Regions from separate parts of the Homo sapiens genome. Here region 2 is linked to region 1. The links come from fine-mapping of genetic effects on gene expression. A gene starts in region 1. The other region holds a variant in brackets. All regions are shown on one strand. Distances are between the middles of the regions. Region 1 holds the start of CDKAL1 (CDKAL1 threonylcarbamoyladenosine tRNA methylthiotransferase). Region 2 overlaps CDKAL1 (CDKAL1 threonylcarbamoyladenosine tRNA methylthiotransferase).

Region 1 (2,928 bases):
GGTGGCATAGGGAAGCCGTGTCTCAAAAACACACACATACAAATGGCTGATAAGCACATGAAAAGATGTCAACATCATGAGCCATCAGGGAAATGGAAATCCAAACCACAATAATACACCACTTCATACCCATTAGGATGGGTAGAATCAAAAAGACAAATAACTGTTGACAGGCATGTGGATTACATCACCCAGAGGGGAAGAAAAAGAGAACAGAGGTAGGAGAAGGTACAAGACCACGACTTGAGAGACTCCAAATTTAACTGCCAGATAAAGGAAAATCAGCTTATAATGGATTCCAAGAAGCAGCCACCAGACAAGGAAAAAAATCCATGGGCCATGGAAGGCAAATGAAAAGGGCATCTCAAAAAAGTGGACATGGTCAATGCTGGTGAATGAAAATGAAAGGTTAAGTAAAATAAATGAAAATATCTCTTCGATTTAATGCTATGTAAAGCACAATGTTTCCATAACATGATAGTGGCAAATAGCTAAAACATTAGGCTACCTCTCTGCATTTTCTAACATGCAGAAATACGCACAGCACTCAAACATAAAAGGTTTAAAATAAATCAGTACCTTAATTATCTGCAATTAGTCTAAAGTCCTCTTGAAAGATGAGTCTGGAAAATAAAAATTGATTAGGAAAAGTAAGCACCCAAAAAGTTCACAAAACCACTGTAAGGATTCTTTACTTAAAAGGAATCAGACTCCATAAAAGACTGCTTTATACAGCAGGATTAATGATGCTCCATACTACTTGTAACTTCTTACTGATTACAACAGGTGTGCTGACATCTGCCGTGACGGTGATCCAGTGTCTGGCTTTAGTAATAAATGTTGTATTCAGCACCGCAACACGTCTGCATAGTGCGAGTAACCAACCACTACAAAACAGGATTAAGTCAATAAGGTAGATAGACATCCAGATCACGTTCCATCCGAAAGATAACTGTCGTCCCGAGATTCAGAAAAAGGTTTTATGAGCAAAGAAGAACGAAAAGTGAAAAAGCAAGACACCTGCTTTTCTCAATAACTTCTGCTTAAATTCTTAACATACTGATCTGGGAAAGCTATATAACTGCGAAAGCCTTGTCACATCTACAAATTCACTAAGGTATAAAGTGGGAGAACAAATGAAGTTAAACCTGACAATAAGGAACGAGGTGCCTAAAATACTCCTAACTGGAGAGCGGCACCTGAGGCCAACGACCCTATCCTCGCTCCTGGAAGCCCCATCTGCCTCCCAATTCCCCCATCCCAGCTGGCAAATCCCCTTTTAACTGCGAAACAAATTTGCAAACAGCCCAAGAAAAACTGAAACTGGAGAAACAAGGCTTGGCCATAAAAGGAGCTGTGGCCACACTCTGCCCCACATGGACCCATCGGCCACCCTTACCCAGAAGTCGGGAAGTAAAAACCAGTCCAAAGTGAGAAAATCAACCCGCCACTCTCCGGAAGCTGCACAGACTTTAGATGGAGAGCGCCATGACACATACGTCCCGCCACGTTTATTTGCGCATGCTCAGCGACGGTGGCCCGAAGAGATCAAATTACATCATTGCTGAAAGCGCTAGTTCTGGTTTAACTTAGTTTAGGAATGACTACGCTTCAAGTTCCTTTGATTCCAAGAACTAAAATAACAACCCTGAGTCCTCGGGTTCCTAGAAATGCTTAATAGCCAACTTCTCCTAAGCTTTTATGTGTTAGACACTGTGCTAAGTACTTTGCATAAATATTATTCACTATTTATTTATTATTATTATTATTCCCAGTTTACAAAAGAGGACACTGGAAGTTTAAGGACTTAATCTAAGTTACTCTACTAGTCGTGCTGCGCTCTGGGCTGGATCCGATGCTGTCTGACTCCCAAAGAACTTGCTCTTTTCACTGCATTTTACTAGCCTCCTCAATCATTTGTGAAAAGAGGTCTCTTCTTTAATATTAAAAAAACAGGAAGGAAAGGATAAAGGTCAGTTGGTAGGTTTCACTTAATATACATCATTGAGCACCACACAAGTGTTTTTGTTTTTTGTTTTGGAAAACTTAGATGGCAGTTTAGCAGACACCTATGGAAAGAAAATACTTTTATGGAGTACGGATTCTCACCCGCTTTCTCTACATATGTTATCTCACTTTACTATTCGTTACCCAAGACACTGTATTTGACCATGTGTTTACCAGAAGAATATCTTTACTTGAAAAAGTAAAGGTAATAGGAGGCAATAGGCCATGAAGAAGGGTCAGAAATCGTGAGTTTTATGCCTGACTTAGGGTTTCATAGTGATTTGGGGCAATTACTTTGTTTTGCAAATGCCTTTCCTAGTACAATTTCATCTAATTAAAATGCCATCCATCTACTCAAGAGGCTGATGTGGGAGGATCACTTGAGCTCAGAAGTTTGAAAACAGCCTGGGCAACACAGTGAGACCCAGTCTCTAAAATAGATTTAAAAAAAAAAAAAAAAACCACCCTTTTCTCTGTTTATCCATATCCATAAAATAATCTAAACTGTGCCCTGGGGTCCACTGTTGTCTTTACCCACCTAAATTAAAATTGTGTATTTATGTTGCCCTACTTTTTTTTTTTTTTTTTTTTTTTTTTTAGATAGGGTCTTCTTCTGTCACCCAGGCTGGAGTACAGTGTTACCATCACAGCTCACTGCAACCTCTCCCTCCTAGCCTCAAGAGATTCTCATGCCTTAGCCTCCCAAGTAGCTGGGACTACAGGTGCACACCACCATACCCATCTAATTCCATCTCTTTCACTAGACCAAAAGTAGGCCCTGGGTTATCTTCTTGGTTGTAATCGCACTACCTAGCACATAACCTTGTGCCTATGTTTATAGCTTCTCAATAAACATATGTTGAATGAATGAATGAATGAATGAATGACTCCACCCCTTTTCCCCCAAGATCTAGTTGAGTT
Region 2 (2,928 bases), 42 kb before region 1:
GAAGACAAATACATGTATTTGTTCTTTTTATTGTAACTACACCTAAGACTAAAACATTTTCCCCATCCATCTTCTTGACATCCATCTCCTATTGTCTCTCTGAGTTCTGATCACTGGCTCATTCTTCCACTCATCTTCCCTAGACTGTAGTCTGCTTATACCATGATACTAATAGAGTTAACAAAAAGAAAGGCTATGAATACCCAATCAAAACAGCAATGTTTTTATTAAATAGACCAGCAGCTGTGTGAGCAGAGACTTGTAAATGCATCTGTTCTACAGGATTTTATGTTTAATTCAATTTGTTCAAATCAGAGCACCAAGGCCCTGTAACTATGGGCTAGACAAGGAAATAGTTTTGCTAAACAGAATCCTACATTAACATGGTATTTTGAGAAAAGAATTGTACCTATTCATTCATTCAGTCATTCACACAACAAGCACTTACTGAGCACCTATTCCATTCTAGCTATTATGTACGGTACTGAAAATACAAAGATGAAGTACAGCCTGGTAGAGGTGACAGACATCTGAACAGATGGTTATAATACACTGGCAGGTTCAATAATACACTTAGGCCTGGGGTAGTACTATGAAAGCACAGAGCAAGGAAAGATTTCTTTTGAAGTCTGAAGCTTTTGTAGAGCAAAAAGGTACAAAGTGAAAATGAAAAATATACTCCCACCTAACCCCCGCCCCCTACATGGAGGGCTGCAGCTATATCAGTAATGTTTCATTTCTAAATCTGAGTAGGTGATATATAACTGGTCCTTATTCTCTTAATCCTTTTCTCTGTCAAATAGTTCATAATAAAATGTGTTAATACTGCCACCAGGTAGTACCTATAGACTCGGAAAGCCTTCCCCACTTACAGCTCTTTCTCTCACAACCGATCGCTTGCGGTCACCAAGGTTAGGTCGCCAACAACGAAGGGAAATGTGGAACAGAGACAGAAGTCCTCTTGTAATAGGAGTGTATGGAGGCCTGAAAAGGCAAAAGGAAATAGCCTACCAAGATTTCAAAATACACTACAAAAAAATTGTTAAATACAAAATGGGTATGGAGAACATATTTCAACCTCATTTTAGACATACACAGTAAAAAATTAAAATATATATATACCTGTGCCATATAGAGAAAATAAACATTATCACAAACAACTAATTCCATTCATTCTGACCACTGTTCTCTCAACAAACATTATTGAACACCTGCTCCACGCCACACACAGAGAAAAGCAAGCTCCTGCCTCCAAGGTGGCTACAGTCAAGTGGGAGGTGTCAGTCCTGTGAGCTGACTCCTAAAGTACAATAGGTAGGTTCTATGATAAGGACTAGCATAGAGTTTGCTACAAGGAACATGGGGAAACAGAAGGCG[C/T]TAAGCATTGCAAAATTTACCATCTTCACAGGTCACACAAATAAATGCATTACCCAGGAGTAAAAATGCTACAGAATAAAATGAAATGCTGAAAATGCAGAAGACTTGAAGTTAATAAAATAAGAATTGCTTTACCACAAAATCTCATAAAACTGTTGATTTTTATTATACTTCATACCTGATTTCAAAGAGCATAAAATTTTCAGTAATGATGAAACACCAATTGTTCTCCTATTCCATATCCAGGAGTCACGCCATCTTGCTAACACCTCCTCTTAATGGTTAAAAAGAAAAAGAAAATTGACAAAATTCTGGAACTTGTTTAAAAGATAGGTGTCACTATCATGCTGAAAATATCCTAGCTTAAGCCAAAATGACTGACAGAGACATGTGCTGGGGCCTCCAGGCAAAGGTAGACTTCTCATGACTGGAGTAACTGTGTAACATGTTTACATGTATGACATAACTCAGCTATTTATTCTTCTTTTACAGTTCTCACAGACACTAAATAAGATCTTTAAATCAGAGTTTTGGAATGTTCATTTTTCCATCCTCAAAACACTGTTTAATACAATATAAAAGATAAATTCCTTACATATATATGTCTATAGCTAAGTCAACTTAAGGTACTTTTGAGTCAATTAATTGACTTCCCTCTCCTTGTGATCGTATAGTTATGCTGTAAGAACAATGCTGCTCCTTACACACCTCCTCCTCTTAGCATTTGAGAGTTTAAAGGTAAGGGGCACGACAGATTTGTGATGTTTTGATAGAGTGTGTTGCCATGGAAATGACTGCCTTGTTCCTTACGAAGCATCATGACCTCCTTGCAAATGAAACAGGAAAAGGATGATTTCTGAGGATTCAACTGAAAGAAAAATTAATGGCTAGGGAAAAAAAGATCCAGAAACTAAGCAGACAATGTGAAAAATATTGCAATGTCAAGTGCTATACTGAAATATTTTCGAAGAACTTTTAAAAGCTATGACCTCCAAAATAGAAACCCTGTAATCAAAAAGATATAATATTAATGTGAAGATAAACCATAGAAATAACTTGGACCTGTGGTTTCTGAAAAAATATATTACAACCTCAATTCTGATAGATTATGAGAAAAATCATATGAATTTCTGTGGCTATGTTATAAAATTAAATGGATACTTTTTCCCTTCTAAAAGCAGTTTGCTTTCTTTTTTTTTTTTTTTTTTTTTGTGGTGCCCCTGTTTATACAGCTTATCCCTTATCACACTGACAAGACTGGGAACCACAGCAGATGGTCCCCGCAGACATAATTCTAACAGGTTTTTTGTGCAAACAAAAGATAAAGAAAGCTACAGCAATGATTTACTGATATCTAAAGTTGAAAACTGACAAAACACAAACTGCTTTTTTCTTACTGTTTGAACTGTTTATCCTTTAAACTACTAAATAAGATAGATATGGCCAAAATTAAATATGGTTTAAAAACTACAAAACCAAATACTCCAATCTTAACAGCCATTAAGTTCTGTCTTTGAGTTACCTAAATGTCCTAACTTTATTTTTTTTTAA

What was found. PIP is the estimated chance that this variant, and not a neighbour inherited with it, causes the effect. A credible set is the group of variants that fine-mapping cannot tell apart.
Region 2: its variant is the best candidate, but not a certain one, in a credible set for the expression of CDKAL1 in whole blood (TOPMed, PIP 0.51).

The regions. Positions count from the first base shown.
Region 1 is chr6:20,533,046-20,535,973 of GRCh38, reverse strand. It overlaps CDKAL1 (CDKAL1 threonylcarbamoyladenosine tRNA methylthiotransferase), which reads right to left and starts at 1,517. Exons shown (of 16, transcript NM_017774.3): 1 at 1,400-1,517; 2 at 580-623. RefSeq lists enhancers at 1,319-1,398, 1,429-1,588.
Region 2 is chr6:20,575,102-20,578,029 of GRCh38, reverse strand. The region is part of intron 4 of CDKAL1 (CDKAL1 threonylcarbamoyladenosine tRNA methylthiotransferase); the gene reads right to left. It overlaps LOC124901273 (a long non-coding RNA gene), which reads right to left. Exons shown (of 2, transcript XR_007059491.1): 2 at 1,520-1,651. Among named protein-coding and RNA genes, the nearest start is that of CDKAL1, 42 kb to the right of the region's middle. The variant C/T (reference allele first, on the strand shown) is at 1,378.